7 separate regions of the Homo sapiens genome follow, and all the other regions are reported to be linked to region 1. The links are microRNA targets in miRTarBase. Many come from high-throughput screens and were not tested one by one. Region 1 holds a microRNA gene; each other region holds the end of a gene's coding sequence.
The links. Region 1 holds the annotated microRNA hsa-miR-532-5p (CAUGCCUUGAGUGUAGGACCGU, at 1,551-1,572, opposite strand). A microRNA usually pairs through its seed, bases 2 to 8, with sites in the 3' UTR of a target mRNA and lowers its output. Matches are read on the target gene's strand: a 7mer-m8 pairs with bases 2 to 8, a 7mer-A1 pairs with bases 2 to 7 and ends in A, and an 8mer does both.

Region 2: the mRNA of NKD1 is a reported target of hsa-miR-532-5p. Seed matches in the 3' UTR shown: 7mer-m8 at 2,529-2,535.
Region 3: miRTarBase lists GSTO2 as a target of hsa-miR-532-5p. The part of its 3' UTR that is shown has no 7-base or 8-base seed match.
Region 4: miRTarBase lists TRIOBP as a target of hsa-miR-532-5p. The part of its 3' UTR that is shown has no 7-base or 8-base seed match.
Region 5: miRTarBase lists SPINT3 as a target of hsa-miR-532-5p. Seed matches in the 3' UTR shown: 7mer-m8 at 2,800-2,806.
Region 6: miRTarBase lists EEIG2 as a target of hsa-miR-532-5p. Seed matches in the 3' UTR shown: 7mer-m8 at 2,662-2,668.
Region 7: the mRNA of ZNF662 is a reported target of hsa-miR-532-5p. Seed matches in the 3' UTR shown: 7mer-m8 at 2,518-2,524.

What each region holds. Positions count from the first base shown.
Region 1 is chrX:50,001,625-50,004,738 of GRCh38, reverse strand. MIR532 (microRNA 532) reads right to left here and starts at 1,591; the gene lies at 1,501-1,591. The region is part of intron 3 of CLCN5 (chloride voltage-gated channel 5); the gene reads right to left. It overlaps MIR188 (microRNA 188), which reads right to left and starts at 1,236; the gene lies at 1,151-1,236.
Region 2 is chr16:50,633,372-50,636,371 of GRCh38, reverse strand. NKD1 (NKD inhibitor of Wnt signaling pathway 1) reads right to left here. Exons shown (of 10, transcript NM_033119.5): 10 at 1-3,000. The coding sequence ends at 2,591. Among named protein-coding and RNA genes, the nearest start is that of NKD1-AS1, 21 kb to the right of the region's middle.
Region 3 is chr10:104,298,788-104,301,901 of GRCh38, reverse strand. GSTO2 (glutathione S-transferase omega 2) reads right to left here. Exons shown (of 7, transcript NM_183239.2): 7 at 1-2,774. The coding sequence ends at 2,618. Among named protein-coding and RNA genes, the nearest start is that of ITPRIP-AS1, 23 kb to the left of the region's middle. RefSeq lists enhancers at 652-1,151, 1,152-1,653, 1,470-2,669.
Region 4 is chr22:37,772,315-37,775,428 of GRCh38, forward strand. TRIOBP (TRIO and F-actin binding protein) reads left to right here. Exons shown (of 24, transcript NM_001039141.3): 23 at 287-450; 24 at 1,469-3,114. The coding sequence ends at 448. Among named protein-coding and RNA genes, the nearest start is that of H1-0, 31 kb to the right of the region's middle.
Region 5 is chr20:45,509,790-45,512,903 of GRCh38, forward strand. SPINT3 (serine peptidase inhibitor, Kunitz type 3) reads right to left here. Exons shown (of 2, transcript NM_006652.2): 2 at 2,672-3,055. The coding sequence ends at 2,862. All of the region lies in intron 1 of LOC107987282 (a long non-coding RNA gene), which reads left to right. Among named protein-coding and RNA genes, the nearest start is that of SPINT3, 4.3 kb to the right of the region's middle.
Region 6 is chr1:108,634,877-108,637,876 of GRCh38, reverse strand. EEIG2 (EEIG family member 2) reads right to left here. Exons shown (of 11, transcript NM_001010883.3): 11 at 1-2,769. The coding sequence ends at 2,727. Among named protein-coding and RNA genes, the nearest start is that of HENMT1, 25 kb to the left of the region's middle.
Region 7 is chr3:42,914,947-42,918,060 of GRCh38, reverse strand. It overlaps ZNF662 (zinc finger protein 662), which reads right to left. Exons shown (of 5, transcript NM_207404.4): 5 at 1-3,114. The coding sequence ends at 2,707. Among named protein-coding and RNA genes, the nearest start is that of ZNF662, 10 kb to the right of the region's middle.

The DNA of each region.
Region 1 (3,114 bases):
GGGGTTTCACCATGTTGGCCAGGCTGGTCTTGAATTCCTAACCTCAGGTGATCTGCCTACCTTAGCCTCCCACAAAGTGCTGAGATTACAGGCATGAGCCCCTGTGCCTGGATGGTAATTATTTTTAAGTGTGATAATGGTATGATTTTTTTTTTAAAAGCGGCCTTAGATTTTAGAGATACATAGTAATTATCAGCTTTCCCTTTTTCCATTGTAACTTACTACTTCCCAGCCCTATGCTTCTGCCACAATGGCTCTTTGTTGTTCCTAGAACACAGTAGGCCTTTCCTGACTACCCTATTTGATATCGAAACTTCTCCACCACCATCTATGCTGTAACTACCCCCACCCACTCCTTGTCCCCTTTTCCTGCCTTATTATTCTCCAGAGCACTTATCAACAATTGGCACACTATCTATTACTTACTTATTTTGTTCACTACCTGCCTCCCCTCACTAGGGCAGGGATTCTTGTCTTTTGGTCACTGGTGTATCCCTGGTGCATAGGGGAGTACCCAACACACAGTAGCTGCTCGATAAATATTTGCTGAATGAATGAGTGGCTCACCAAATGAATCGGCTGCAAATCCTGGGTCTGGGGAGATAACAGAGAAAACTCACAATCTGACTCATATCTACATGAGTGTCTAAGAAGACAGATCTTCACACACCCTCTTGAGCAAACAAGTGTGCATATGGAAAGGCATGGCACAGTGAGTGGATTCTACTTTCTGAACCCAAAATGTGTGTGCATATTACATCTTTGCATATGGTTATGATATAGACACAATTTTCCTCACAAACTGGGTTTGTGAGAATTAGCTAGAAGACTCCCTTTTCATCATGCCCCATGTACAGGAGTCCTGAGAAGGTTCTCTCTCCTCCTCTAGGTGCCGCTAAGACAGAACCAGGTCAAAAGACCCCCCTTCCTTCTCTAGGCTGTGCCTATCCCTGAGTATGAGGGGCTGCACCATGTGCAAGAGAAAGCTAAGAGAAGTCTCCCTCTCCTGCAGGATCCATGTAAGACTGAGATGGGAGAAAGGACATGGCTGAGAGTCATTCTCCTTCCCACCACATGGGTGTGTGTTTTTCTTTTGGTGAAGGAGTGCGTATGTGTATATACACATGCACAAGAGAGCAAGGAAAGCTGAGGCTCGCCATCCTGCAAACCCTGCATGTGGGAGGGGTTTTCAGAAAGCTCACCCTCCACCATGCAAGGGATGTGAGAGAGGGAGCAGGGAAGGGCTTGCTCTCTTGGCACGACATATGGGTATGCTCTAGGAGGCAAGAGGCACTGGCCTGGGGGGTGCAAGTGGGCAGCAAGATAGCCACAGGAGTGCTGATGGGTAAACTAGGAGCAGTGGCCATGGAAGCAGGACAGTCATCCAGATGGGATGGCTGCTAACAGTGTACCCCACATACAGAGCACGTAAGAGAGGGTCTACCTCCCTTTGGTGTACCTGTCCATGTGCTCATGCCTATGCACTGGAGAGGGAAGAGAAGGCTCGCTCTTCTGCAAGCCTTGGGTGTGGGAGGGTAATTAAGATGCCAACGGTCCTACACTCAAGGCATGGAGGAGAGAAAGCAAGTCGGGAGGTCTGCTCTCCTGTATACTGTGTGCATGCGTATCCCAGATGCCTTGGACTTCTATGACTGTGCCCCAGACATGCTGTAATGAGAAGGTGTGCTTGTGTACATTCACATATGTACCTTCAGAAATGTTCACTATCTACAACATATTTGTTTTCCTTCCTTCTTTCTTTTCCTTTATTTTTATTCCTAACACCAGTATAGTATTTACATTTGCAGAGCACTGTTTTAAGTGCTTTTCACACATAGCTCATTTATTCTCATAAAATATCCATGAGGTGATCATTATCCCTATTTTACAGATGAAATAACACACATACGAGAACAGATGGTAAGAAAGCTTAGAATCTGGCATGCAGGTCATTAGAAAGAGGACTCAAAAAAGGAGGCTCAAGCTCTCAGCCACCAACCACTTTGTGTCCACACACACACCACACACACACACACACACACACACACACACACACAGAGAGAGAGAGAGAGAGACAGAGACAGAGACAGAGACAGAGAGACAGACAGACAGACAGACGCAAGAGAACTTGCACTTGTCAGCCCAGGGAAAAGCTGGATTAGTGTGGAAATAATAGAGGAAGTGAGAAGTATGAGAAGTGGCTGTGTGGTCAGATTAGACATGTATTTTGAAAGTAGAGCCAACAAGATTTGACAGCAGTTTGTATTTGGAGAATGGAGGGGAAAAAGTGTCAAAGATGAATCCAAAACCTTTAGCTTATTAAAATTCTCCATATCCTTGGCATATGCAATTGGGAAATGCTGTTTGCTGAGTTGGAGAACACAGAGGGAGGAGTAGGGCTTTTTGAGAGGGGGAGGAAAACCAGGACCTCAGCTTTGGATGTGTTAAAGTTTTGAGATACTTATTAGACATTCGGGGCAGATGTCCAGTACATAGTTGGACATAGGCATCTGGAATTCAGGAGAGAAGTCCAGGCTGGAAATACAAACACAGAAATCATCCACATAAAATGGTACTTAGAGTTGCAAGACAAGATGAGAACAGCTGAGGACTAATGAGAAGTTAAAAAAAAAAAAAGAAGTCTGAAGACTAAGCCCTATATCTCTTTAATACTTAGAATTCAGGAAGAGGAGGAGAAACCATCAAGAGACTGAGAAAGAGAGGCTTGTGAGGTAAGAAGACAACCTCATGAGTGTGGAATCCTGGAAAGCAGGTAGAGTCTCAAGGCAGAGGGAGTGATCAACTGTGTGTTGATCTGTCAAGTAAGATGACAACATTGCCCAGTAAATTGGGAAATGTGAAGGACACTGGGGACCTTGACCAGGGTCATTTAAGTGCTGCAGGTTACAGTTTTACATGGAGGGTTTTCAAGAGTAAATGGGACTAACATTTAAGTCTTTAATCCATCTTGAATTAATTTTTGTATAAGGTGTAAGGAAGGGATCCAAGGACAGAAAACCAAACACCACATGTTCTCACTCATAGGTGGGAATTGAACAATGAGAACACTTGGACACAGGAAGGGGAACATCACACATCGGGGCCTGTCATGGG
Region 2 (3,000 bases), not on the chromosome of region 1:
AAAGTTGGGCAAGTCCCAGTTACCAAGAAGTAACAGAATCCTGACAGGTGTGGAGCTTAGGGAGGCAGAGGAACTGCTCTAAAACCAGTAGTCTCAACTCCGGGCTGGCCTCCAGGGTTGCAGCAATTCGGGGCCTGGGATGCCATTACTTCCTGTCCGATCTGCACCCCTCCCCTCCTGTCTTCCGGTACAGACCCCACCCCCTTGCGGCAGGTTGGCCACGTGACCCCATCTGGGATGTCATGATTGGTCCAGCTATGGGTACCAGATCGAAGCCCAGCCAAGCAGAATCCTGCCTTGGGCTTTACACTAACGGAAGGTCCTTTTTCTTATGGTTAGGGGACCCAGAAGGCCAGCAGCCAGGGTTCCCTGACAAAAGCATGTAGTTGAGTACAAGTTATCAATCCGAGGGACAAGAGGGAGGGACAAGAACCAGTCTCAGCTGCATTCACATCCTGGACCCTGTCATCTCAAAGCCAGTTCCCTCCCTGCCTTCCAACTTGGTTTCATTCACTTTGGATTGAGTTGCGTTCTCACTGAACAGAAACCCACAACCCAAAACAAGGGCAGCCCATGGCCGTGATTAAGCTCTGCACCAGTGGCGAAGGGATCGAGTGGGAGACCAGAATTCCAGCTCCGCCCTCTGTGCGGCCTCAAGGGAGTTATGAACTTCTGAGCCTTAGACATGCTTCCTGAGCTGCCACCAAGCTGCCTCATGGGGCTGTCCTAAGGATTAATGTATTAATCCAATCCCAGGCACATCAGTCATTAATAAAATTAAGAATACGGTGACAACTAAGCCCACTACCTTTGGAAGTAACTCCTTACTAACTACATTAAACCCAAACTCGAGGCTCTGGAAAAGAGAATGCCAGCTGGGAGACAAAACGGCAGAAAGGAAGGTAGCTGGAGTCACTTCTCCCTCTTGAGTCTCCCTAGATTCACTCTCCACTCTCCTCTCTGACCTGGGAACATGCCCGTGTGACCCACATCAACAAGCTCCCTTGGCCCGGTGGCTTCCAGCGGCCTCAGCCAATGGATTGAGGGGGCTGGGGGGCAGGAAAGCAGGTCAGGATATTAATTTCCCTGGAGGGTCCCCATGACTGGCTGCATCCTTTAAGCAAAGGTCACAGCTCCTTCAGGTGCCCCTCTCACTCCTCCAGCAATCCTCTGTCTGCTAAAGATAACTCCTTCCCCACTCAGGCCCAGGGGTGGGAATAGCGCCCCACACTGCTAGCCCCAGGGTTCTGCACTCTCATGGGAGGCTTAGCCCACACTTTGTAAATACTGCCTTTATTAAGCTCTGCTCAAATTACCCAATTTGAGTGTGTAATCTGCTTTTCTCTGAGACCCTGGCTAGCTGACTGGTTCTTTTTCAGGTTTCTCCAGGCTCTGGCCAGACAAAATCCTTCTCTGCAGAGGATGCTGCTCCAGGGTCCCAACTCTGGCCACAGTCCCCTTTTCCCACCAAGTTTCTGTACCCCAGCAGTTCTCTCCAAAATCCATCAGACCCCAAAACCCGAGAATGGACCTCTGATGAAAGCATCTGAGAGCCGTCCAGCCCCAAAAGGAGACAAGCAGGGTCACATCTGGGTTCCAGAAGCATCCAGGGAAGCAAACCACTGATTTATACACACCAGAAAAGATACCTGAGAGTGTATATTTATAGAAAGATACATAGAAATGGACAGATGGCATCTATCTATAGATACAGAAAGCTCTGTTAGAGAACCGTGTAGGTACGTATATATGTGCCACATCCTCCACCACAACCAACAGCACACAATTGCCTGGATCTTGGAAAACCACGCTTGTTTAAGTGGTTGGTTCCCTCCCTAGCAGTTTCCAAAATGAGAAGGATGGTCTCAGGGATAGTCCTTAAATACGTGTGTGTATCACTGTAAAGTAGAGAGAGAAGAAGGAGAAGGAAGAGAAGTGGATTTTCATGTCGTGCATGGCAGAAGAGATGGGACTCTTGGGGAAAAGGGCTTGATCCCACTGGAAAAGCATGAAAGACAACTCCAGAAAAGACAGCTAAGGTTTCTAGGTTGGGACATAAAAACACAACAGCAAGACGTTCGCACTCTGCAGTCCACTGAAATCCCTTGTAGCATATAACAATCAGTTAAGGGCAAAATAAAATCAGAATAATACTAAGAGGTAGCAGCTGTTTATCTTCTCGGAGATTTCGAGGGTCTCTGGAAGCCGGGCCAAGTAAGGGTGCTCTCCTGGAAGAGGCTGGGGTGGGGCAGAGTTGAGGCTAAGGGCTCCCTGGCTCTGGGAAGGGTGTGGGCTGATCCACATAGATGCTGCAGATCCCGAGCCCCGAGGGAGCCTCTGCCCATTACAGGCCACTCAAAACCAGAGTCATTTCCTGGGCTAGTTATGCAGTCCCCACAACATATAAATAAAAGTTTAGTTCTGTGTTTCCATAGATCTTCTACATGTAGGCTAGCTAAATATTAGTGGAGTAACAATAATTATTAATAACAATAATCATCATAATAACAATAATTAATAGAATAATAATGCCTTGTGGTGTCGGGGGTGGGGTCCTTCATATGGCAGGGTGGGGCCCTGGGGAGGGGCTCTATGTCTGGTAGAAGTGGTGGTAATGGTGGTGATGTTCATGGTGGTGGTGGTGCTCATGTCTCTGGACCGGCTGCCCGGCCTGGCTCTCATACACCACCAAGGCGGGCAGCTCCCGCAGGTGCTCCCGCCCCAGGACAGGGCCACCTGAGGCCAGTGGTGCCTGCAGGCCCCGGCAGCCCTGCTGGCTCTCCTTGGCTCGGTGCTTGTGCTTCTTGTGCCCGAGGGGGGCTAGGGAGGGGAGGAGGGCCGGGCTGGCAGCCAGGTGGGCGGAGGGGGACACCGCAGGGATGGCGGGTCCCAGAGGGGGCTTGTTTCTTGCCCCTCTGGCCACGTGGCCCACACCCACACTCTTGCCCTGGGCCTTGGGGGACCTCACAAAGTGCTTGCTCCCGTCCTGGGTGCCCCGGA
Region 3 (3,114 bases), not on the chromosome of region 1:
GTGCTTTTTATAAGATAGACACCCACCAGGCATGATGACTCAGACCTATAATCCCAGCACTTTGGGATGCCGAGATGGGAGGATCACTTGAAGCCAGGAGTTCAAGACCAGCCTGGTCAACATAGCGAAACCCCATCTCTATTATTTAAAAGAAAAGGGGAAAAAAAGGTAGACACCAATTACTAAAAGTGGTTATCTCTAGGACACAAGATAATGGAAGATTTTCTATTCTTTTACATTATTGTATTTTTAACCCATATGTATTCTTTCCACATGTATTAATTAAGAAGCATATTTTTAAAGTTCTTCATGGAGCATTATTTAATTACCTCCTTCCCTCTTTTCTCCAGGCCACATCCTTCTAGTTTTATTCAAAGATTGATAACTCAGTTTTCTCTGTGGGTCAGACAAGTGACAAAGAAGCGAGATGGAGGAAGTGTAAGGATGTGCAGGTGACCAGGACCCTGGTAAACAGCAGGGAGCATGCCTGGCCAAGAGGCACTCAAATCCCAAACTGGGCTATAGGCCACCAGGCTGCAAACCTCCCCCATGAGTGCTTTTCTCCATTCTATAATTCCTGGTTCTTCAAGCTTTCTAAATTAGTGTGCGGAGCCCCAAAAGAGAACACCTTCATTTTGGTGAGCCAGAGGCATGCCATTTCCTGTTGCATCAGTGGTAACTTTGGTCTTATGACAAGCACTCACTAGCATGCAGGATTTGTACCGGCAAAAGGCTGATCAATCTCCTAAGTCCTATGAGAGGCCACAGGAGAAGATTCCCCTCTTCTTGGAGCAAAGATCCCAGGAAAACGGTGATTCACAGACCTCACTCAGCATTAACTAGGGTGCCATGGCAACAGGGCTCCACATCCGGAGCAGATGGTGCGGCAGACTGCCCCTGTCATGCGCTGCCTCTTCTGGAAGTTCTGGCCACCTCACCAAGCAGGCTTGTTTCTGTCCAGCTGGCACAGAGTAACACCTGGTAACTATTTACATGGGTCAAAATATACCCAGAGCCAGCAGATGGCAGGGCCAGACTGAGACGTGGGGAGAGAGGAGGGCTGATTTGGGCTGTCTCAGAGGCAGAGGTGGCAGACAGCTCCTTAGGGAGCACAGACAAGGCAAAACATCGCTCCTGTTGCTGCCTGGTGTCTCAGCACAGCTAGGAGGATGGGAAAGGATCCAGCATGAGCAAAGCTGAAATGATCACAGGCTGATCCTCAGACACTGAGATGAAACAGCATTGGACAAACTTGGTCCCCCTCCCATAGTGCAGGCAGTAGATGCTCCCAGCCCAAGGGACCTGTTGGCACCAGCCATCCTCAGCTCTTTGCTGTCTTCAGTGGGGTGGTACTGCCTGGCGAAGCTGGCAGAGGGGCCACATCAGAGACAAGCATCCCTACAACAGACAAGCAGCTCCAAAGCGCTAGGTTTAAAACCTCAACCAAGATAAGTGGAGAGATGGGGGCTCCCAGGGACAGAGCCAATGTCTTTTTCAACTTTATCCCCAGTGTGCCCCTGGGCTTGGTACACAACAGGCAACCAGAGGCATTTGTTGAGATGAATTGGAAGAGAGTGTGACGCAAATCCAACGGAATGACCTTTGCTTGTGGCTGGGTTTGGGGCGTGTGTATTTTTTTAAGGCAGGATGCCGGCTATAGAACATTTTGTGAGACATCCTGAGCCCTGACAGCACCAGTGAAATTCTGACGTAGTTAGTCCTGGGTGATAAACCGGTGTTTCATTTCCTGCTTTGGAATTCTTTCCAGTCACAAGACCCTCGGTGTCTCCAGGCCCATGGCCAAAGTTTGGAGAATTACACTCATACTCGCCCACGTGGACAGCGACATTCATTTGCCAAATGGAAGGTATTTAGGTTTGGAGTGTTTTCTTCTTCCTTCTCCCTCTTCTTAAGCTTTCACCAGGGAGGTCTTTGGAGGGTGCCATTCTGTAGTGACAAGCATCAGTCATAGGTTGACCCTGAACCTCAGCATCAGCATCTGCACCAATAATCTGGAGATCAAACTAGGCTGAAGGCCAAGGAGTTAGGAGGCACACAGGCTCCCAAAATGTGCTCTGACATTAGCACCAGGCACTTTCTAGAAAATAGTTAGAAGCTACAGGCTAGGCAGGCCAGGTGGCTCATGCCTGTAATCTCAACACTTTGGAGACCAAGTTGGGTGGATGGCTTGCGGCCAGGAGATGGAGACCAGCCTGAGCAACATAGTGAGACCCTGTCTCAACAACATTTTTTTAAAAATTAGCTGGGCGTGGTGACACATACCTGTAGTCCTAGCTTCTCAGGAGGCTGAGGCGGGAGAATCAACTGAGCCCAGGAGTTCAAGGCTGCAGTGAGCCGACTGTCCCACTGCACTCCAGCCTGAGTAACGAAGCAAGATCTTGCCTCAAAAAAAAAAAGGAAAAAAAAGCAGCAGTAGCAGCAGCTACAGGCTAGAGGAGTCAGACAAATGATTATCAGAAGAATACATTTCCTGTTTTCATTTTATTGGGAACTTCAAAGAAAAGAAAGAGAGACGGATTGGTTCCCAAGACAAGCCGTGACGTAGACTCCCAACAAGCTGGGGAATTCTGGACAGCGAAGGGGTGGACAGTGAGACTCAGCACAGCCCAAAGTCAAAGGCATTAGGGTTGTTCTGAAAATAGAGATTCAAGAAGCCCTGGAAAATGCTCTTATCCATGAGAAGAGCACAGACTGTGGGGTCCCACTTCATGGCTGATATCCAGAGCCGCAGGGCTGGCGTGTGGCTCACACAGCTGCAAGACAGGAAAGAAGCGTCAGCACAGTGCAGGGGTAGGCATCAGGAAAGGGGATGCACGTTGCTTTTTAGATTTGCAAGATATGAAGAATGAGTTTATTTGGGAAGTTATCTTAGTTATCTTATTATCAAGTGAGAATGATAACTTACTGGAGGAAAATCTTATTTTTGGAATAGTTGAATGTTTAGAAGTTGTTGCTTCTAATAATACAGTGAAATACTTTGGACTGATGGCTCTGGGAAAATAACATGTCTGTGCTTCATTTTTTTTGTTTTGTTTTTTAATATATATATATTCTAAAGCTTGAGAAACTTACATGTGCTTCACTGCTTGCCAA
Region 4 (3,114 bases), not on the chromosome of region 1:
AGCCAGGCTGACCTGGTTCTCATCCCAGCCACTCACTGCCCTGCGGTCTTGGTCAAAATCTTCTCCCCCGAAACAGGATGAGGATGACAATGACGCCTGTGTCCCTGGGTGGTACCAGGGAGGTGGGAGGGGTAAGCCCAGAACCCACGGCCATCTTGGGGAGCCACCTGGAGGGATGAAGCGAGGTATCTGCGGGGAGGTCTGGCTGCTGGTGCTGCCCATGTGCCCGGTTGGCAGGGCTGGAGGGAGAGACTTCATGCCCTCATACCTGCCTCCTGCCCCCCAGGACAAGCGCTTCACCTCGGGAAAGTACCAGGACGTCTATGTGGAGCTGAGCCACATCAAGACACGGTCTGAGCGGGAGATCGAGCAGCTGAAGGAGCACCTGCGTCTTGCCATGGCCGCCCTCCAGGAGAAGGAGTCGATGCGCAACAGCCTGGCTGAGTAGAGGTGGATGCCGAGGCGTGTGCCCTGCAGGGTGGGCAGGGGCTGAGGCTCTCCCACACCCGGGACTCCCTGGACCACCCCAGCCAGGCCACTTCCTTCTTCTGGCCTCCAATTCCCGTTCTGTAAAAAGGACAATGAAACCAGCAACACGGGGTTGTTGCAGAGATCCCATCAGACCCGGGCCACAGGCTGCTTCATCAGCTTAAGCCTGTTCCTCCAGAGCTGGGCGGCACAGTGCAGAGCCACAGCCTACTCAGTGCACCCCCCTTCTTGGGGCTGGAGGCAAATGCAGCGTGCACATCCCTGACCCCCACAGTGAATCTCCACTGAGCTTCACACACACACATCGCACGCTGAGGCCGGGCTTCTATCCCAGTTAGTCTTAACACTCCTTCTTGACTTAGCAGGGCTCAAAGTGGTTGGTTGGTTGGTTGGTTGGTTGGTTGGTTGGTTGGTTGGTTGGTTTTGGTTGCTTTGAGAAAGGTCTTACTCTGACACCCAGGCTGGAGTGCAGTGGTGCAATCACGGCTCACTGCAGCCTCAACCTCCTAGGCTCAAGGGATCCTCCCACCTCAGCCTTCTGAGTAGCTGGGACCACAGGCCCTCACCACCATGCCCAGATAATTTTTGCACTTTTTGTATAGGTGGGGTTTCGCCGTGATTTCCCAGGCTGGTCTCGAACTCCTGGGCTCAAGCAATACACCTGCCTCAGCCTCCCAAAATTCTGAGATTACAGGTGTGAGCCGCTGCACCTGGCCAAAGTGTTCTTATTTTTGCTTTTTCAACGCCACATCTACCTGGAGCATCCTCTTTCTGATAAGTCCTCATGGACTTCCTATGGCATGCAGGAGAGGCCACCCTATGGCTGAGCTGCTTGGGAAGGAGCCAGGAAGAGCGGATCTGGCTGTACCTTAGGGGCTGAGAGGTGGTGGAAGGACCCACTCAGCACCCTTGCTTGGCCTTGGGGTGGCCTCGCAGCCCCTCAGCCCAGGCCTCAGCCCTGCCGCACCTTGTCTTTCAGGTCCCGCCCAGCTGCAGACCCTCCAGGCTGGAGGACCAGCCGCCCTCCTTCCCTCCTGGATGGAAGTAAAAAGCCAAGCTTTCTCCCCACCCTCTGTGGGCCACACGTGCACTTGCACCCACCACACACACACACACACACACACACACACACACAGACACACAGACACATACGCACACACGTGCACACATGTACACACGGATACACACACACACACACACACTGCATATCTGAGCGCGCCCCTCGCACTGGGTCTCACCTTGCACCTTCTTCAGGATTTTATATGTGAAGAGATTTTTATATAGATTTTTTTCCTTTTTTTCCAAAACACTTTATACTTTAAAAAAAAAAAAAAAAAGCAATTCCTGGTGGCTGTGTGCCTCCAACCCTGGTCCCCCTCTGTCTCCAGCCACCCTCTGCTTGGGCTTCTGAGCTGGTGGCCCTGGCCCAGAGGTCTGGCGGAGGCCCAGGCAGCAGCCATGGCGGGGTGTCTCTACAGGGGAGAGGCGGGAGCCTGCCACCCTCTTCCTGCCCTACCTCCTACTAACACTTCCTGCCCCATTTGGACCCGTACCATGGGGCTCAGGACAGAGGGAGCTAGCAGCTGGCCTCCATGGCCCCACAGCCTCCTTCGAGGCTGTGCTGGGTGCAGAACCGCCAGAGCCACCCAAAAGGTGTTTCTCTTCTGCTCCCTGAACCTCTTAACTTAATAAAACGTTCCAGCAGCTCTGGTGTCCTAGATGGCTGGCAGAACAGGAATGGAGATTGGGGTTTCTTGAAGTGGCTTCCCCACTCACACCCTACCCACACCCCACCCTTCCTAAAGCAGCGGCCTCTAGGCTTCTGAGGGTGGGGCTGAAAATCCAAGGTCTCCCTTAGTACAGACTGTGACGCCCCCAGTGTGGCTTGCAGGCTAGTGGCAGCGGAAGCATGTGGGAAATAGCAAGTCCAGTCCCACCCCAACCTACTGAACCAGCGTCTGCATTTTAACAGGGTGCCCCAGTGATTCACGTGACCTTCAAAGTCTGAGGAGCCCTGGAGTAGGGCCCAGGGCCCAGGCCTGAGAGAGAGGCCTGGGGCTAAGACTAGCCCTGACCATGACCTTGGGCAAGTCACACCCCTCACTGAGCCTCAGTTTGCTTCTCCATCAAATGGGTGTTTTTCTTTCAGTCCCAGTCCTCTCCTGAGGCTTTTCCCAGAGGTCATGCCCAGCCCTGGGCAGGGGTGAGGGCAGGGTTGTGGCTGCCAGGCACAGGTCCAGCGGGCTGGGAGTCCTCACCATGGCTGGCTGTGCTGATTATGGTTGCATGGGGCTGGGAAGAGGTCCCATTTCTGAGCCACAGAAACAGGCCACATCCAGTAGGGGTCCTGGAAGGCTGTGAGAACCCAGAGGAGACCCTGACCCAGCCTGCAGGTAGAAGACTGCCTTTGGAGGCAGCTTTGAAAGATGACTCTTCCAGATGGAAGAATCAGGAAGGGCCTTCCCACGTGGAGGCACCAGCAGGAGCAAACGTCCCTGGTGTGTTCAGGCAAAGAGCCACAGGAGAGTGACCTCGTGGAGTGGGAAGAGATTGTTTCCCATTCCCTTGCCAGGGATTGGTTGAGGAATGGACAAGGCTTGCAGTTCACGCAAGCCAGTGAAATGC
Region 5 (3,114 bases), not on the chromosome of region 1:
AAATACTTTCAACTTCAAATGGATAGATTCTGCTCTTCAGTTTCCACACCTTTGCCCCTTTTTCAGCAGGAAGTAGCTAGAAAAGAATGACACCCCTTTTCCTACATGAATGAGGAATGGAAAAAGGCAGTGGGGATTTGTAACAGGGCCCCTTGAGATCTCAGCATCCAAGCATTTTTAGTGACTGAAATAATGAAAATTCTGATCAGGCCCTTGTTTGCTTGAACTTGCTTTTTGCCCAATATTCCTTGTTCCCACAACATAATGATAAACTGCTGATGTACTGTTTCTCTGTCAAGCAGTGGGAGTTAACTTCAGGGTCACAAAAAAAGTATCCAAGAAGAAATAAATGTCTTTAAGGATGTTGTGACAAGCTGCTGACTCCTAGAAGTCTGGTTGTTTCAGGTGTTATCTGAGAGTGAAGAAACACAGACTTTTCCCTTGGTTTCCTGAAACTCCCCCTCTCTTACTCTGCAGCCACATAACTCTCTGCTTCTTTTTCTTAAGGTAAATCGGAGAGATCTTGCCTTGACCAAATTAAATAAACCTTTCTCTATTTCCAAGCACTTGTGTGTCAGTGTTGGCATCAGCTGTACGTTCGGTACAAGAGCCTGAATTTCGGATTCTATGACAAGATTGGGTGGTTAATGCAGATACAATTGAATTATAGAGACAATGATCACATTTTCTGAATCTCAAGGCCAGATAGTTCTGGTGTTTCATGAGTAGGAGACAGAGCTTAAAGCCAGTGATTTAGGTGTTGAGCAATTCAGGAATTTCTAGGACATTTTGGTAAGACAGAATATCTGATTGGTGTTAGCCATGATTTAGGTGTTGAGCAATTCAGGAATTTCTAGGACATTTTGGTAAGACAGAATATCTGATTGGTGTTAGCCATGGAGAATGCTCCCTCTTGTGAAATGTTGAGAAGGGAAGAGAGAGTGAGGGTGGGTGGTATGGAGCCAGGGGCTAGGAATGAGGCAATCTCTCTTTTGTGGAAGTCCTCAGTAGGTTGGTGTGACTGCTGCTCTCCAACCTGGAAAAAGAAGACAGCGGCCATGGGAGACATTTAGGATTTTGTCTCAGGTTCTTCCCAGAGATGATCCAGGAATCCTGCTTCCCGGTGTTCTCCACAAAAGGGAGATGTGTTTGTTGCCTTGCCAGCATAACTTGGTGTTTTAAAATTTTTCTGATACAACCTTTAACTGGAAATCAGCCCCATGGGGGAAATCCTGAGATCCATGACAGAGTGAAGCATAGCCATTATAACCAGGGACTTTGCAAATATACTGACATGAGCTCAATGACCAGCTCTGCCACTTTCCAGCTGTGTGGCCCTGGAAACATTACTGCTCTGTTTTATCCTTGGTTCCTCATCTACCACTGCTTCCTAAACTTGAGTGTGCCCACAAATCACCTAGGAATCTTGTTACAAGGCTGGTCATGAGATTCTGCATTTCTAACAAGTTCTCAGGTGACCTGGAAGCTGCCTGTTCCTGGAGCATGCCTTGAGTAGTAATCTGATTTTTAGGGTTACCCTGAGGTTAATGTGTATTATTTATGAAGAGCTTAGCATGGAGCCTGGCATAATGGTTTGGAGTTATTGTTCCTCGGGCAATGGGAAGCAGCTGACTTGGACTTTGGGGGAGGACTCTGAATCAGAGTGGTAAGTAAGGGACAGTGCCCACATGAATGCCCCCTCTTCAATTCTGCCCTCCATCCCAGAGGAAGTCTGGAAAAATTATGGATTGGGGGGTTTACAATGCAATGGAAAAGGCCTTTTGGTGGGACCAAGGATGCCTCTGTTTTGTTCCCAACCTGTGATCTTAAAGAAGTCCCTCCGCATCTATGGGCCCTCTTGAAATAAATGAAAGAAATGATTCCTGTGTTTTTCTCCTCTCTCTCCAAGTTGTTGTAATTGGTGTTGCTTAAGGCAAACCAAAAGACTCTAGGACCAGGGCTCTTCACTCCTCTCCCCATGTAGCCCTTGGTAGGAAGATGTGGTTGAGCCTTAGTAGATAACAGCTTTCATAAAAATTCACTTTTTTTTTTTTTTTTTGAGACCAAGTCTCACTCTGTCACCAGGCTGGAGTGCAATGGCACGGTCTCGGCTTACTGCAACCTCTGCCTCCTGGGTTCAAGCGATTCTCCTGCCTCAGCCTCCCGAGTAGCTGGAACTATGTAGTGTAGTAGCATGCGCCACCACACCCAGCTAATTCTTGTGTTTTTAGTAGAGACGTGGTTTCACCATGTTGGCCAGGATGGTCTCGATCTCTTGACCTCATGATCCACCTGCCTTACTCAGCCTCTCAAAGTTCTGGGATTACAGGTGTGAGCCACCACGCCCAGCCCACTACTTTTTTTTTTTTTTTTTTTTTTAATTAAAAGTGTCCTTAACATCTTCAGTTTCTCCCCAGCTCCCCTTTCTTCCCTGGTTTCTGTTGTTTCCTTGTTTCTTATTTCACAAGACCAGAAATCCCCTCCTTGTCCAATGTAGGCCCTTCCAATGTTGTACCCGAATTTCCAAATCCACCCTCTCTGTCCTTCAAAACCTTTATCTCCCAGTGGGTTAAGCAGTAATTCATACTAAGGTGTGAATGGTTGCTCTAAATTTCCCCAGTGTATTTGTAAGTACGTGTATGTTTTAAAAAGGAGGTCTTGAGATTGTAAACATGATTGCAACATTTATAGAATTTCAGGCACAGAGATGAAGCACTTGTAGGAGCACATCAGGGAGAATAAATGTGGGGGTAGAGGAATGAACCTCTTGTTCACACACACACACACACACACACGCAAATGCCTTCTATGGCCCTCAGAGCAATCCCGAATCCATGGAGGGCTGTGTTCTTGTTAGAAAATCAGGTGAACTTGCAGAATTTCTCACATTTTTCTTTCCTCAAAAAGTTGTTGCTGTTGCCTCCGCAGCCTCCGTAAGCAAATAACTCACATTCACCAGTTTCAAAGTTGAAAAACCATCGCGTCATGTAGGTTTGACAAGGGCCCTTTTCCATAGGAAAAGCGCATACATTTGGGAGGAGATCCTTGATAGTGTCTGAAGAGAGAAAGTGGTTGAAGGAGACCAAACCCATCACCTTCTCCTTGTTTGCCTCA
Region 6 (3,000 bases), not on the chromosome of region 1:
CAGGGCCTTCTCTGCCCTTTACTAGCCTTCATGATCTGTCGGGTCTCAGCAGCTCAGGGCACAGGAGGAGGTGGGTCTCCTGACTGGCCTGTGCATTCTCCCAAACAAGATGTTTAAGACTCTTCTTTATCTCGTCACAAATACACAGCTTTGAAATACCATTAGTCTTTTTCTCTAGGATATAATTAGAAAAAGCCAGGCATGGAGATAGAAAAGACATAATTAGAAAAAGTATTGTATACATCTGCAAATTCTTCAACACTGGGTGATTTGAAATTTGACTTTAATATTTAAAAATAAATTTATTAATAATCTAAATTTTCAAGTCAAATTTTCTAAACTCAAAACATAAACAGAAGTGAACTTGTTATTTAATAAACAGATTTTTTCAACAGCTATATGGTTAAGATGTTCTTAACCATGCTCTCAGAAAAGGACAATCAGAAAGTAAGGCAGACACTTAGGCAACCCTTAGCGAGTATTTTGAAAGGACTGCACTGAAATTTGAACACAAAGTGTGCCAATGGAACACAAAATAGAAAATGGATCCAGACTTTTGCTGACTACAGAAGACATAGACATTAGTTCTTTTTTCTTCCTTATCAGTGTTTCTATTTATTAAAATATTTGTTATATTTACTACTACATAAATCAAGGTGTATCTGATGGCTGCTAAGATTATAAAGGCATGATTTTTATGCTTTTCAAAATCTCTCTACTTTTTAAAAAGAATTCTGTACCATTTAAAATACTGAGAACCAGTCTTGTATAGAGAGGTGTCGGACCAAGGGCAGCCAAGGATGAGTAAGATGGGCATCACCCTGATTGCAGCACCTCTTACGTGTCTGATGAATGTCCTCACTGAACCCCACTTACAATCTAGTTTTATCATTTTCAAAACTGCAAAATCATTTGCACAGCACCAATAAAAATATAGCCTAGAAATAATATTTTGAAAATAGAAAAATATGTTTTTAAAAAATGTCATAATAAATATCTCTCTAAATAATATCTTCATATCTCTATAAAAAACTTTCTTTGATTTTTCCCATAATATATAATGAACGGATCAGTTCACATGAAGACATAATGCAAGTCTTTACCACTTAAGTCCCTTGGTTAGGCTAAAATGTTCAGGTCAATGTTTTATTCTTAAAAATAAATCTTAAAAAATAAAAAGTATAACTCAGAACATTCTCTCTCTCAGAGTCTCTCTACATTCAAAATATAAAACAGGGTATCATTTTTTAAAAACTTCCAGAATCTCTTTGTTGGAATAGTATTGGATTAATGCAGAATACTCAATCCTTGAAATATAAAAAACAGCAACATAAGTTCTAATATTAACTATTCAAAATTTTCCAAACCTTTAAATTTGGATATTAAAATAATATAATTTCCTCCTTATTTTTGCCAACGTGAAAACACCTAGACCAAAGTCATTCTATTCTGACATATTGTCTTTCTTGGATATGACTTTGAAAGTAAGAATTGGGGAATTACTGGTTATACAGATTCTACATTTTTCTTCACTAATAGTGATTCCAAGAAAGTTTAGATCTTTCCACATGGAAACCGTCATGTAAGAACAGAAAAACTCTAAGGTTTATCTGCTGTGCTGCTCAACTGGATCCAGACCAGGTATTCTTATTTTAAAAGCTATATTTGATAGATGTTATATTCTACTCTTGCTTCAAAACAAATCACTTTCGACACAGTGGGGAAGAAAACAGTACCTACAGAGAGCTAAAATGGAAACCTAGTAGTCTGCATCAGTCATGGCAAGCAGCTGTCATGCTGCTACCCACCACCACTTCGGAAAACTGTTAGCCTCAGATAAGTCTGAATTTACATAGAAAAGGCTTCTCTGTTTCTGACCATATTACAATTCTCCTCTTTTTCTACATTTTGACTCCTGAAACCAGCAGATCTTAATATTCAATGAGTTAAGATAGCTCTTCTGTTAGGGTGCCCAACACAGTAAGTGTTAAACTTATTTTGAGTCTTTTATGTAGTGCTTGGGGGTGGTTCTGCAGCTCATCTAATATTAATGACAATTAACAATATATACTGCATAACGGCATTACATCCATTCACGTATCTCTGACTTAAATGCACTTGTTATTTCATTTATGACTGATACACTGAGAATTATGAATAAGCACATCACATGTTTAAATTGTAGTCTAACATTTTCCCAAAGCATGAACACCCACACTTTATACAATGCTGTAGGTAGTGTAATAGGGAAGATTTCCAGAACAGGAATTACAACTATCTTGACAAAATCTATAGGGTTTAAGTTATATTCATGTACTGTCTCTCAAACTAAAAAAACCAAACCATAGAGCCCAAATCTATTGAGCCTCTTGATCACAGATTTTTACACTTGAATCCTAAAATGATACTCCGATGTATATAATGCTGTTTTCTCCGCTGGGGTGTTCTGAAAGAAAAAGCAGGCTTTTCATTATGATGTGCAGTGACCACAGAAGCCAGGTGCTTCCAAGGCACACAGTGGCACAGTGCCTGGAGACTGCCATGTAGATGTTCCCCTTTGGTGGCTGGTACAGGATGGCGGTGGGTCCTTCCAGAGAAGAAACCAGCATTGGCTTTCCTCTTGATAGTTGAGGTTCATTTTCTATTAAGTGCTTGAATAAAATGCCTTGATACATCAACTACTCACATCTTAAATCCACAAGGAAATGTTTTCACCGACTTGACTTCTAGCGTTTGATCACAACTTGTTCATAAGCTCCAGACCCCACCCTAAAACAGCAGTGGAAAAAAACTTCAAAATTTTGAGCTGCAGTGTTTGAAACTGTTCCAAGTAACCTTACCCCTGGAGAGATGGGGCACTGGGTATTTTTCTACTAGATTTGATTTCCATAACGTTTAAAGGCATCACGGATAGAAACTATGTGAAATATTAAATGTTTATCATTAATACATTGGATTAGCCTAGATCCTGATTCTCTCACACTTATTCCCACAATAATC
Region 7 (3,114 bases), not on the chromosome of region 1:
AATCTCGGCTCACTGCAACCTCCACCTCCCAGATTCAAGCAATTCTCCTGCCTCAGCCTCCTGAGTAGCTGAGATTACTGGCATGTGCCACCACACCTGGCTAATTTTGTATTTTTAGTAGAGACGGGGTCTCTCTATGTTGGTCAGGCTGGTCTTGAACTCCCAATCTCAGGTGATCTGCCCACCTTGGCCTCCCAAAGTGATGGGATTACAGGCGTAAGCCACTGCACCCAGCAAAAGCCACCTATTTAGATGCTCAACTTCCAAGCAACTGAGATGAGATAAAACTGAGAAGCTTATGAGACTACTGAGCAAGAGGAAAAGGTGACACTGAGGAGCTGTATGAGAAAACAGTGATTTCAAACACAAAACAGTATTAGTGTGGCTAAGTTGCAAATAACAGAAAACTCAACTCTAACTCGTTTGACAGATGTTTATTGGCTCACATAGCTGAAAAGTTCTGAGGTAGCTCTGCTTCAGGTAAAGCTTGGTCTAGTGGCTCAAAAGATGTCACCAAGGACCTAGTTTCTCTCTGTTTAGTCACTGTTTTCTTTGGTATTGGCTTTATCCTTAGGCTCCATATGGTAGCACCTGGAAGCTTGAGAATCTCCCCTTTTAACAGAAAAAAAAAGTTGCTATAATTCTAGGTCTCACATTTTCCTATGTGCCACACAGAGGACAGATAATATCTCCTCTGGTAGCTCTCGATGAAGAAAAGCCTCTCTTTTCCAGAAGAGCCAGTATCTCCTCATATCACAATGGCTCTGTGGCCAAGGGGATGGGATAAACTGATTGACACAAGCCAAACAGGGTCCACTCATGAAGATGGTGGTGGTGCCAAACCACATAGCTGAGAAAGGATAGCTTCCCAAAGAATACCCGGGTAACTGTTCCCAGAGAGAAGGGGAAGAGATGATGGAAACCAATAAAAGATGACCACGTCTAAAAATGTTGTTTTATAAAACTCCTGATTTCAAGTAGAATTAGTTAATTCTATAATTCTTTACTTTCCTGTGTAGACGCTACATGTTCCTCGTGTTTGTTTTATCTTTGGTCCTGGACCTAGGGAGGGCATTTCTGGCTCTGATGCCAATACTGGATTATGTGAAAACTTTTCAACTATTGACTGGATGAAGCTATCTAACAAAGCATTAACCACCACCAGAAAGTGACCATTTCTCCCTCCCTTGGCAGTGGCCTCACAGCTTATCAGAATGTAGACTATCATGGTAGTGAGGGATGGACAGACTGGAAGAGGATTTAGGATAGGAAGCAATGAGAGGGCTGGAACTATATAAATTTTTATGAAAAAAAATCTCCAGTTGAGTTTACATATTCCCAATCCCAGAATGATATCTCATAAAACAAAGGCAATGAGGTCTCTTAAGACCTGGATTGGCCAGGCGTGGTAGCTGAGGCCTGTAATCCCAGCACTTTGGGAGGCCGAGACAGGTGGATCACAAGGTCAGGAGATCGAGACCAGCCTGGCTAACATGGTGAAACCCCGTCTCTACTAAAAATAAAAAATATTAGCCAGGCATGGTGGCGGGCACCTGTAGTCCCAGCTACTTGGGAGGCTGAGGCAGAAGAATGGCATGAACCCAGGAGGTGGAGCTTGCAGTGAGCTGAGATAGCACCACTGCACTCCAGCCAGAGCAACAGAGTGAGACTCTGTCTAAAAAAAAAAAAAAAAAAAAAAAGACCTGGATTACCCTCTGCTGTTTCCCTAAATTACTTTGGTGGCCTCAAAAGGAAAGCAACTTCTGAAGAAAAGGTCTTAGAGTTCACAATTTAACTGCAATGTTGCTTCCATCAAATAAGGTTTTCAGTGAGACAGAATTATGAAAAGCAATACTAATAAACACTTGTATACAAAGAGTATCTACAGAGATACACAACCAGTAGCAGTGATTGCCTCTGGGGAGAACTCAAGAGATAGGAATGACAAGGAAATTTACTTTTCACTGAACACCCTTTTCAACTATTTCAATTCTTTTTTATCATGAGCATGTTATATCTAGTCAAAGATTAATGTTTCAGGATTTGAAAAACATAAAAGAAATGTACTGTTGGTCCTCAGAGTCATTTAGCTGGGGTTAAGATTAAAAGACATGAGACTATTAGAAAAATATAAGATGGCACATAATTAAATACTAACTTGGGTGGTACTGATTACAAGTAGAAGAGGAAGAGAGATCTTCTTAGTTGAAGGAGCTAGATCTGAGTGATGAAGGGAAACTAAAAGCACAGGAAAATAAGCAAATAAAAATGGGCAGAGACATAAATATGTACAATTAAGTAAAGAACAGTAAACTCTGCAGTCAGATAGGCCTGGCTCCAATTTCAACTCTATAACTTACTAACTGAGCAACCCTGAATGAGTTTTATAACCTCTTTCAACTCAGATTTCTCATTTGTAAAATGGGGAGAAGAGCACCTACCTTAATAGGATTGTTATGCAAATTAATGTATGTAAAGTGGTTAGCACCTGATACAGAGTAGCTGCCCAACTAAATGATGCCTTGTTAAAACATCATAGAACAGAGGGACCAGTCTTGCTAGAGTACATGGTAAATGTTCAAAAGGGCAAGATAATACTGGCTATTTAAGTTAAGGGTTACAGCAAATTGTGAATGGTCATCTCATTTTGTCTCTAGGGTTCCTGCAGCATAAGAATTATAAACAAGTATCACCATTATGCACTCTCTAATGTTCAAGAAGGTGAGAGATCTGACAGTTATAGGGTTTGTCTCTAGCATGGCGCCTCTGGTGCTTAATTAAGACAGAATTCTGACTGAAGGCCTTCCCACAGTCATTACATTTATAGGGTCTTTCCCCAGTATGGATTCTTTGATGTCGAATAAGATGTGCCTTGCAAAAGAAGCTTTTCCCACAGTCAGTACATTCATGAGGCTTGTCCCCAGTGTGGACCCTCTGGTGCTGAGAAAGATCTGAGTTCCACATGAAGCCCTTCCCACAGTCCTTACATTCGTAAGGCTTCTCCCCAGTGTGCATTCTCTGATGTCGAAGAAGGGCTGGGTTTCGAGTAAAGCTTTTCCCACATTCCTTACATGTGTATGGTTTCTCACCAGTGTGGATCCGTTGATGTTGCGT